Linked DNA regions of Homo sapiens. The protein of the gene in region 1 interacts with the protein of each later gene in a biochemical or structural test. Each region holds a gene or a part of one and is shown in the gene's direction. Other genes may lie near its edges.

What was found.
Region 2: the proteins of CORO1C (region 1) and TIMP4 form a complex in vitro, tested with the Homo sapiens proteins (one study listed by BioGRID).

The regions. Positions count from the first base shown.
Region 1 is NC_000012.12:108,651,386-108,658,683, reverse strand, and holds part of CORO1C (coronin-1C), read left to right. Parts: intron 1-1,260; coding exon 1,261-1,380; intron 1,381-4,273; coding exon 4,274-4,378; intron 4,379-6,266; coding exon 6,267-6,412; intron 6,413-7,298. UniProt on the Homo sapiens protein: Plays a role in directed cell migration by regulating the activation and subcellular location of RAC1. Increases the presence of activated RAC1 at the leading edge of migrating cells.
Region 2 is NC_000003.12:12,152,399-12,156,041, reverse strand, and holds the end of TIMP4 (metalloproteinase inhibitor 4 precursor), read left to right. Parts: intron 1-1,590; coding exon 1,591-1,715; intron 1,716-2,329; coding exon 2,330-2,527; 3' UTR 2,528-2,974; downstream 2,975-3,643. UniProt on the Homo sapiens protein: Complexes with metalloproteinases (such as collagenases) and irreversibly inactivates them by binding to their catalytic zinc cofactor. Known to act on MMP-1, MMP-2, MMP-3, MMP-7 and MMP-9.

The DNA.
Region 1 (7,298 bases):
CTTTCTGCTTTTTAAGGCAGGCAGCGGTACTGGTCAGTGGGACCCTGTTGTGTGTAGACACCAACTGTGAATAAGAGAAGGCTTATAAAGGCTTCTGTCTCCCCAGTTGTGCTTCTCTCCAGAGTTGTAAATTTTCCAGCTTTTACTCAAGTCTCTCACTTTGTAGCCTTTTTTCACAAAGAAATAGTTTGTATCAGTTCACTAGAGTCCTTAAGAGTTTATAAGTCTTGATCAATTAAACCAATTGGCTGCATTCCTGATTTTGCAGCTTAGTATTGAATATTGATGAATCAATTCCTCACCCTTTTCCAAACACAGCTGTTAAAGATGCAACAGGTGGCCGGGCATGGTGGCTCACACTTGTAATCCCAGCACTTTGGGAGGCCGAGGTGGGTGGATCATTTGAGGTCAGGAGTTTGAGACCAGCCTGGCCAACATGGTGAAACTCTGTCTCTACTAAAAATACAAAAATAAATAAATAAATAAATAAATAAATGCGCAGGGCGAAAAGCAACAAGTTCTCTCATCAGCTCAGTGTCTTAGTTTCTGCCACCCAAACTGGACCTCAACAAAATCACATACCTTGACAAAAGATGGACATTTGGGTCTTCAGTCGGTGTTGAAACTACACATAGTAAGTCTGAGAAGTCCTCATTTGCCACACTCTGAGGCCCTTCCTGAGATGTGGTTGTTCTTTGGCTGCATCTCTTTTCAAGAGTTGGGCAATGATAGTAGCTGGTGCTTACTGAGCCCTGGGGACTTGCCCAGCCCTGTGTTAAGTGTTTTCTCCACCCGACATCTTCTAAGGGTTGTCCTAGTGCATTCATTAAACTACTGAGGTCAAGGAAAGCGTTAACTAGACAAGGCTTCTTTCTGCCCTATGATATTGGTAGAAATGGTAGGGCATGCCTAATCTCCTTATGTTATTATCCTCTTGAGAAACAAACATTTGTCAGAGTCCTTTCATGTGTTTTATTTTCACAGTGCATAGACTTGGGTTGGCAGCAGGATATGGTGGAGAGAGCGAGTCTTCTGAGTTAAATCCTGGCATTCTTGCAGCCTCACAGAGGGACCTTGACCAGATCACATAGTATCTCTTTGTTTCCTCATCTGGGGAAGGGGGATGGTTAACACTGACCTCCCTCCCACACCCAGGTGAACATGAATGGCAGTTGGTGAGGTTGGATCTGTGCCCGAGTTTCTCCACTCACCTTGTCTTCTTGCAGTTTAATGTGTGGCATGTGCCTTTTTGCTCTCCAGGAGAAGGAGAAAGCACATGAAGGAGCAAGACCCATGAGAGCCATCTTCCTGGCCGATGGCAATGTCTTCACCACTGGGTTCAGCCGCATGAGCGAGCGGCAGCTGGCTCTCTGGAATCCGGTACGCCCTCCCCAGGCTTTCCACTTGCTTTCACTTGAGCTTTCTCTCTGTTCTGAGCAGGTCTTCCAGTGAGTAAGTAGATTATGGGATTCTTAGTGTAGTTTTCTAAACGCCTGATTGTCTTAGATTGGATGTGAAGTTCTTATCCTCGTTGGAGACTTACTGGTAAATGTATTTCAAAGACATACTTTTGATACTCCTGAAGAGGCTGTTGACTATATATTTTTTATTTTTTTAATTTTTTTTAATTTTAATTTTATTGGTCATTTTTGGGTGTTTCTTGCAGAGGGGGATTTGGCAGGGTCATAGGACAATAGTGGAGGGAAGGTCAGCAGTTAAACAAGTGAACAAAGGTCTCTGGTTTTCCTAGGGAGAGGACCCTGCGGCCTTCCGCAGTGTTTGTGTCCCTGGGTACTTGAGATTAGGGAGCGGTGATGACTCTTAACGAGCATGCTGCCTTCAAGCATCTGTTCAACAAAGCACATCTTGCACCGCCCTTAATCCATTTAACCCTGAGTGGACACAGCACATGTTTCAGAGAGCACAGGGTTGGGGGTAAGGTCATAGATCAACAACATCCCAAGGCAGAAGAATTTTTCTTAGTACACAGCAAAATGAAGTCTCCCATGTCTACTTCCTTCTACACAGACACAGCAACAATCTGATTTCTCTATCCTTTCCCCACCTTTTCCCCTTTTCTATTCCACAAAACCGCCATCGTCATCATGGCCCGTTCTCAATGAGCTGTTGGGTACACCTCCCAGACAGGATGGTGGCCGGGCAGAGGGGCTCCTCAATTCCCAGAAGGGGCGGCAGGGCAGAGGCGCCCCCCACCTCCCGGATGGGGTGGTGGCCGGGTGGAGGCTGACCCCCCACCTCCCTCCCGGATGGGGCTGCTGGCCGGGCGGGGGCTGCCCCCCCACCTCCCTCCCGGACGGGGCGGCTGGCCGGGTGGGGGCTGACCCCCCACCTCCCTCCCGGACGGGGCGGCTGGCCGGGCGGGGGCTGAGCCCCCACCTCCCTCCCGGACGGGGTGGCTGCCGGGCAGAGACGCTCCTCACTTCCCAGACGGGGTGGCTGCCGGGCGGAGGGGCTCCTCACTTCTCAGACGGGGCGGCTGCCGGGCGGAGGGGCTCCTCACTTCTCAGACGGGGCGGCTGCCGGGTGGAGGGGCTCCTCACTTCTCAGACGGGGCGGCTGCCGGGCAGAGGGGCTCCTCACTTCTCAGACGGGTCGGCCAGGCAGAGACGCTCCTAACCTCCCAGACGGGGTCCCGGCCGGGCAGAGGCGCTCCTCACATCCCAGACGGGGCGGCGGAGCAGAGGCGCTCCCCACATCTCAGACGATGGGCGGCCGGGCAGAGACGCTCCTCACTTCCTAGACGGGATGGCGGCCGGGAAGAGGCGCTCCTCACTTCCCAGACTGGGCAGCCGGGCAGAGGGGCTCCTCACATCCCAGACGATGGGCGGCCAGGCAGAGATGCCCCTCACCTCCCAGACAGGGTGGTGGCCGGGCAGAGGCTGCAATCTGGGCACTTTGGGAGGCCAAGGCAGGCGGCTGGGAGGTGGAGGTTGTAGCTAGCCGAGATCACACCACTGCACTCCAGCCCGGGCAACATTGAGCACTGAGTGAACGAGACTCCGTTTGCAATCCCGGCACCTCGGGAGGCCGAGGCTGGCGGATTACTCGTGGTCAGGAGCTGGAGACCAGCCCCGCCAACACAGCGAAACCCCGTCTCCACCAAAAAAATACGAAAACCAGTCAGGCGTGGCGGTGCGCGCTTGCAATCGCAGGCACTCAGCAGGCTGAGGCAGGAGAATCAGGCAGGGAGGTTGCAGTGAGTCGAGATGGCAGCGTCCAGCTTCGGCTCGGCATCAGAGGGAGAGCGTGGAAAGAGAGGGAGAGGGAGACCGTGGGGAGAGGGAGAGGGGGAGGGGGAGGGGGAAGGGGAGAGGGAGGGGACTATATTTTTTAAAAAGAATGAAGAATCTAGTGTTTTGGATTTGGAAAATAAGTTCATATTTCATAAATAATATGATCAGTTGTCTAAATCAAAATAGTCATGCTTGGGAAAATGTTCATAATTAGCTTAAGTGGGGAAAAATACAACATACATTCTATCATCTCAATCTCTGTGTACATGTGTCGGAAGGAAATAGATCAAAATGATAATAGCTTCTGTCACCCACTGGGCTGTAGGATTTTGATGGAATGATTTTTATGTTCTTTTTTATATCTTTCAACTTTTTAAAAGCACACATATTTTATAATTAAAGAAGTACTTTAAAAAAATAAAATAGGGTAGGCGCAGTGGCCATTCCTGTAATCCCAGCACTTTGGGAGGCTGAGGTGGCTGGATCACTTGAGGCTGGGAGTTGGAGACCAGCCTGGCCAACATGGTGAAACTCTGTGTCTACTAAAAATACAAAAATTAGCCACGGGTGGTGGCATGTGCCTATCTATAATCCCAGCTCTTGCCAGGCTGAGGCAGGAAAATCGCTTGAACTTGGGAGGCGGAGATTGCAGTGAGCCGAGATAGCACTACTGCACTCCAGCCTGGGCGACAGAGGGAGACTCAGTCTTTAAAAAAAAAAAAAAGAAAAAGAAAACAGTAACAAAGGAGAAGGGCTTTCTCATCATTGTCATGAAATCACGCTGATGTATGCGCGCATTATGTTGTCAAATCAGTGAAATTTTGTGAGTTGGATCTCATTTAGCATCCCTGTTGCTGTTTCCATGTATGAGTATTGTATGTGCATAGTTCAAACTTCTGTTATTCTAGGAAAATGGCTCGCTTAATTGGGATAGAAGAATATATAATAAGGTTATAAAAATTTATTTTTAAAAAAATGTATACATACACATATATGTATTATTATTATCTTCCCCCCAGAAAAATATGCAGGAACCAATTGCTCTTCATGAGATGGACACTAGCAATGGGGTGTTGCTGCCTTTCTATGACCCTGACACCAGCATCATTTACTTATGTGGAAAGGTAAACAGTAATTTTGATGTTTGGTGTTAAATCCTGTAAGTGGAAACATTTATCCTTCAGAGATTTAGAGGACGGGCAATGTGTTGTATCTGTTTAATTTTTCTAATTTGTGTGTGTATGTTATAAGCCAAGGACAGATAATTTGGTATTTTTAGGTCTTGAGACTGGACTGTGTGCAGCTTGCCAGTTGTGCAGTGATAACACGCCATGTTGCATACTTTTGACTGAAGCAGAGGTTGGGCTGGGGTATTGGGGAAAATGCTCCAATCAGGGCGCTCTTGTGAAAAAAAGAAGATACACTGGTGTTTCATCTTCACCTAGCAGTGCTACCTGATTGGTGATTTTAGATTTATCTGTACTTATGTCAGGGATGGGCAACCAGTTGGCCACATCTAATGCTGAAATTTGTTGGATAACCCTAGATGAGCATGTGTATACTTAGTACCACACACCATGGACTTGGAAGGAGAATGGTGCTTTGTGGATGCAAACTTTTGAGGGCCTCAGAGACTCTCCAGAGGGTTCTTGTTCCTGGGGTTCAGTGCTAGGGCTCTGGGCTTGAAGATATGAGGCCTGACTAAAGCTCAGGGGTGATAACAGTTATAGGGAGACTCCACACTGAACTCCAAAAACCTTCCTCCTGCCTTATGAGCTCAGCATACCTAGACTGTGGGTAGCTTTATTATTTCATTTTTGTAAGTGGGAACCTTATAGTTCCCTTTTTTTTCTTGTAGGCTCAATTTCCCTTAGAACTTTTTGTAGTTGAAATAAATGAATTAATAACAGTGGAGCTGTTGAGGTAGTCCCTAGACCTGTTAGATAGCCCTTCACTGGGTGGTAAAGCTGGTGTTTGCTTTTCATAGCTGATTGAGCATGCTGCAGACCTGCTTTACATTTTTATAGGTCATTGTTTTAGAAATGGAGATCTTGTCTGTTTCCTTGAAAGCCATTTTACTGCAGATGTTAACAGGTGTTAAGTGCATTTACCTTGCTGTTGTTGCCCTTGACTGAATTAAAACAAACAAAATGAGCAGTTACTCAGATATTAGTAACATGAGATGGAAAATTCTTTTGGGCATGCAGAAATGACTAGTAAGGGTTTAGCTTCTTTTCCATTGCTTTAGATATCTCAGTCATTGAGACAAATGGAAATCATGAGAACTGGGAGCACTGTTGAGGCATGATACCACCTAGCTATTTTTGCCTTCTTCTTTCTTACATATATGTATATCTCCTCTCTGCCAGACAAGATTGCCGTCATTGTTCAGGTTGGTGTAACTGTGTGACAATTATTTGTACTTAGACTAACATATGCTTCAGTACTCAAAGATATCTGACTATTCTAAGCAAGAAAGTAGTAGAATTGTACACATTGCCATGAGATGGCACTTTCTGAGGATACTCACTAAAACTGAGTTTCTTCATTAGAAAAATCTCACTTTTTATCATCATACTGGCATAACAGCATTGCGTTATGCCAGTAAATGAATACTTAAATCAATAATTGCATTCTCAGCAGTCCTCTTAGTCTTTGTTTGTTTGTTTGTTTTTCACAGTTGAATTGCAATGTAGCTGTTTGGCAGAGGCATTAACATTTTTGCCCTAACCCTGGCCTGGTGCCTAGGCTCAGGGGAGTAAAATTAGAGCCAGGAGCCAGGAGGCTGAGGAGACCACTTAAAAGGCATGCTAGCATTTGATAAGTAAGGGGTTACTTTGTGAGGAAAAGAAACTTTTATATGCTTTAGGCAAGCCTCTTTATGAGGAAGAAAAGGTCAGCTACTGAAGCGGGGTCCCAACTACTGCTGGGTTTGTAGAGGAGAGAGACACCCCCATAATCCAGATGTTTCAGTTAACAATCAGACACAGACTTGTCTCTGGTTTCTTACAGGGTGACAGCAGTATTCGCTATTTTGAGATCACGGATGAATCCCCGTACGTCCACTACCTCAACACATTCAGCAGCAAGGAGCCTCAGAGAGGGATGGGTTACATGCCCAAGAGGGGACTTGATGTTAACAAATGTGAGATTGCCAGGTAAAGAATCGAGATTGTCAAGTATTCTAGGTTGGTGTAACTGTGTGACAATTATTTGTACTTGGACTAGCATATACTTCAGATCTCAAAAATATCTGACCATTCTGAGCAAGAAAGTAGTAGAATTGTACACATTGCCATGAGATGGCACTTTCTAAGGATATCACTAAAACTGAGTTTCTTCATTAGAAAAAAATCTCAAAAAAAAAAAAAAAAGAAAAGAAAAAAATCTCACTTTTTTTTTTTTGAGACGGAGTCTGGCTCTGTTGCCCAGGCAGGAGTGCAGTGGTGTGATCTCAGCTCACTGCAACCTCCGCCTCCCTGGTTCAAGCAATTCTCCTGCCTTAGCCTTCCAAGTAGCTGGGATTACAGGCGCCCACCACCACACCCGGCACATCTCACTTTTTATCATCACCTGAATGCCTGGTGATACCAGAGCAATACAGCTACAAGAAATTCTATGAAGCCCAAGTCTTTCTATCCTTGTGTGTACTGTGGAATTAATACCTCATTTCCTGCCCATATAACTGAAGTGCAACAATGAAGCAGCATAGCTGGGGTGTATTGCACACCTACTGAAATAGTGAAACATGCATCTTTAATCTTCAAGCTGAGGCCATGGTCAGCGTTCCCTGGTGGGCAAGTAGGGAGAGCCTGGCTCGGGGATGGAAAAGTGGGTGGTTTTCCTACCCTATGAGTGGAAGAACCAGAGTCAAAACTGTATTTGGGGCCCCACTGGTCCTAAAATAGAGAAACCAAAGGTCCTATAATGGGGCGGTAGGTTAGCTTGATTTAGGAAGTTCAGCTATGATATAATTTCTACCTCTCTGTACTACTTCTGATTTTTAGAAAATTCATATTCTAAATGCTAGCAGGCTTCCTAAGG
Region 2 (3,643 bases), on another chromosome or scaffold:
CTTAAAAGAGTTCACTGTCCAGACATGGCTCTTGATGAGTCATAGGCACTGGAGGCTACAATGATAAGGGCTTCCTAGCTCTGAGGATGTGGAATTGTACAGAACTGAGGAGCTCCTGGATGGAAGAGGCAGAGGCAGGACACACCACTGAGCCCTGCAGTTCCCAGGTCTAGCAGACCAGGCCCTTTCAAACTCTATTATCGCACCTCCTTCCTAAGCACCTGCCCTCTGTGTGTCTAGCCCGCTGCTAGGCATGGAGGTACAGCAGGGGAAATGAGGAAACATGTTCCCTGCCTTCAGGGAGGTCAAGTCTAACTGAGGGTGGGGAGAAATGACAAAAAATAGTCTAAGAAAAGTTATCAATGGTGCCCAGGTCCTACAGGAGAAGGCACAAGCTCCTTTGCCTGGTGTTGAAAGCTCTTTGTGACCAGAACACTGCTGCCCTCTCTAGCTTTGTCAATATCAGTTCCCAGCCCCTCACTTTCCCAAGAACTGAACTCAGCTACCTGTGGTTGCAGAAGGTATGCTGCCAGGCTGTGTCTCCCTGCCTCTGCACAGGATAGTGGCAATGACAGGAAGCCCTTCCCCCAACCTGTTTGGTAGGCAGACTCCCACTCATCCCTTCAAGGCCCAATGCAAGCACAGTCTTCTCTGAGACACCTTCTTTGCCCCACACTCCTTCCATAGATGGAAATAATTGTATGTTCCTTTGTTCTTATACTGCACTTTGTATAGAACCACACAATAGTGTAATTTTTCCCTACTTATCCATCTACCCTACTCATTTCTAAGCTCCTTGGGAGCAGAGATCCTGTCATTTTTATATCTGTATTCCTGGTACTAGATCACAGCAGTCACTCAGTGAGTAAATGATTGAGCGACTGAGGTTCTAAAAGAGGCATGGGCTAGCTAGGTGGTCAGAGATGGCTTTGAGGTGGCACTGAAAGGGTCTTTGAAAGGTGAAAAGGAATCTACGGCCATACCACCCTGAACGCGCCCGATCTCGTCTGAAAGGTGAAAAGGAGCTTCATAGGTAAAAAGGGGGAAATTTCCTATGGGGAAGGTAAAAGACTCACCAATCTAGAGCAGGAGCCTGGCCTGTGCAGATACTGGGAAGGGCTGGAAAGGGGAAGGGACCTATTATTTATTGAATATCTTCTGTGGGACCACAACTGTGCTGGGAACTTTATAGACAATCTCTCATTTAATCTGACAACTTTATAATTTTCATCTTCCAGCTGAGAGGTTATACAACTTCCTTAAGATCATTCAGCTAGTAAATGACAGAAAAGAAAGGGGGATCCCACACAGACTTTGACTTTAAAGACCACATTCTTCTCTCTGTACCATGCTAAACGAAAAGGCCTTCACCAGATCCCACAACTCTGCCTCGTACAAACATAATCTGCTTATCTTTTTGCTAGAAAGATTATAGTAGTTTTATTTATTGGTCCCTTCACTGAGCCCCATGCCACCACTGCCACCAAAGTCATTGGGGAGGCTGCAATTCTGGGCTTTTCAAGGACCTGGGCCCCTGGGGCTCCAGGAGAAGAATCCTGATGCTTGACTCTCCTCCATCTCCCCTTGAAGGTCAGGTCCTCAGTGATGGAAAAGTCTTCATCCATCTGTGCAACTACATCGAGCCCTGGGAGGACCTGTCCTTGGTGCAGAGGGAAAGTCTGAATCATCACTACCATCTGAACTGTGGCTGCCAAGTAAGGGAATGTCCATTTCCAAAGTCTTTAGGGATGGGGGAAGGGTTCTGAGCCTTCATTCATGCATGAATTTATTCACTTACTAGACTATACTTGAGATCTGCACTGTATGAAGTTGGGGATGAGAAAGCAATACAGTCTATAGGCCCTGATCTCAAAGTACTTACACTTTGGCTGGGAAGGTGGCCATCACAGGAGGCAGACTGAGATAACTGTAACACAGCTACCCTTTAAAGAGAGTCTATTCTTTGCCAGCCACTGTAATAGTAAATTTACTGTAAATGTTTAATTTAGTCTCCAAAACATATTTATGAAGAATTAAGATTTCCATTTTAAGGTGAAGAAATGAAAGCTCTGGCAAGTGAAGTGCTCAAGGTCAGTGGTAGAGTAAGGACCCTCAGAGCTGTCTGACTCCAGAGATGCCACTAAGTGGCAATATTGAATATGGGGAACCTTGGGGAAGGAGAATCCAGGAGAAGACTGGGGACTGGGAAAGGCTTGATAAGATAGGGGGCATTTGAGATGGGCTGGAAAGGTACGTAGGAATCTGAAAGGCAGCAATGGAAAAAGAAGGACACCCTACTCACTTTAATGTTGTGTGGCCATGACTCTAGATCACCACCTGCTACACAGTACCCTGTACCATCTCGGCCCCTAACGAGTGCCTCTGGACAGACTGGCTGTTGGAACGAAAGCTCTATGGTTACCAGGCTCAGCATTATGTCTGTATGAAGCATGTTGACGGCACCTGCAGCTGGTACCGGGGCCACCTGCCTCTCAGGAAGGAGTTTGTTGACATCGTTCAGCCCTAGTAGGGACCAGTGACCATCACATCCCTTCAAGAGTCCTGAAGATCAAGCCAGTTCTCCTTCCCTGCAGAGCTTTGGCCATTACCACCTGACCTCTTGCTGCCAGCTAATAAGAAGTGCCAAGTGGACAGTCTGGCCACTGTCAAGGCAGGGAAGGGGCCATGACTTTTCTGCCCTGCCCTCAGCCTGTTGCCCCTGCCTCCCAAACCCCATTAGTCTAGCCTTGTAGCTGTTACTGCAAGTGTTTCTTCTGGCTTAGTCTGTTTTCTAAAGCCAGGACTATTCCCTTTCCTCCCCAGGAATATGTGTTTTCCTTTGTCTTAATCGATCTGGTAGGGGAGAAATGGCGAATGTCATACACATGAGATGGTATATCCTTGCGATGTACAGTATCAGAAGGTGGTTTGACAGCATCATAAACAGGCTGACTGGCAGGAATGAAAACAAGAACATACTGTGGCTGTGTATCCTCTACTTCCCCTGTCTCAACTCATCCTAATCCTCTGATACACTTTCATCTGTTTGGGGGAGTCATTTGGGAGACACAGAATCACTCAATGTGAGAGCCAGAATGGACTAACCTGCCTTCCAATGCTGTTATCCCCTCTATACCATTTCTGGCAGAGGGTCCCACCTGGTTAGCACACCTCTTTGAATAAGAATGCACTTACTGTCTCAGAATAGGTACTACCTCTCCAAGTTAACTATCCTTAATGCCCTCAACTGATGTCCATAAGGCTTCTCTTCTGTCTCTTTTAAATTACTAACATCTTCATTCCTATTTCAGAACTTTTTAAAAGCCACAAAGCCTTTTTCTTACAGAGCTGAAATCCCCCTTTGTTGGCTTTTTACACCACAGAGAGGTGGTCCTCTCTTGAGGGCAAATTTCAGGATAGAGCACCGGAGAGAAATAACACAAAGGCCCTTGAGGGAAAAGCACGGTAGGTAGGGAATATACCTGGCAATTAAGGCAGTTTTTTTCCAGCAGCCAGCCCTGCTAGATGCTACAGCAGGAAAAAGCCAGTTTTGATCCCCAGAGAGCCCCCTGTACCCTTCAGCTGAGTACTCTCACCATTGTGCCTTGGGCTCCCTGAGATTCCCCAACCAAAGGACCCTCAG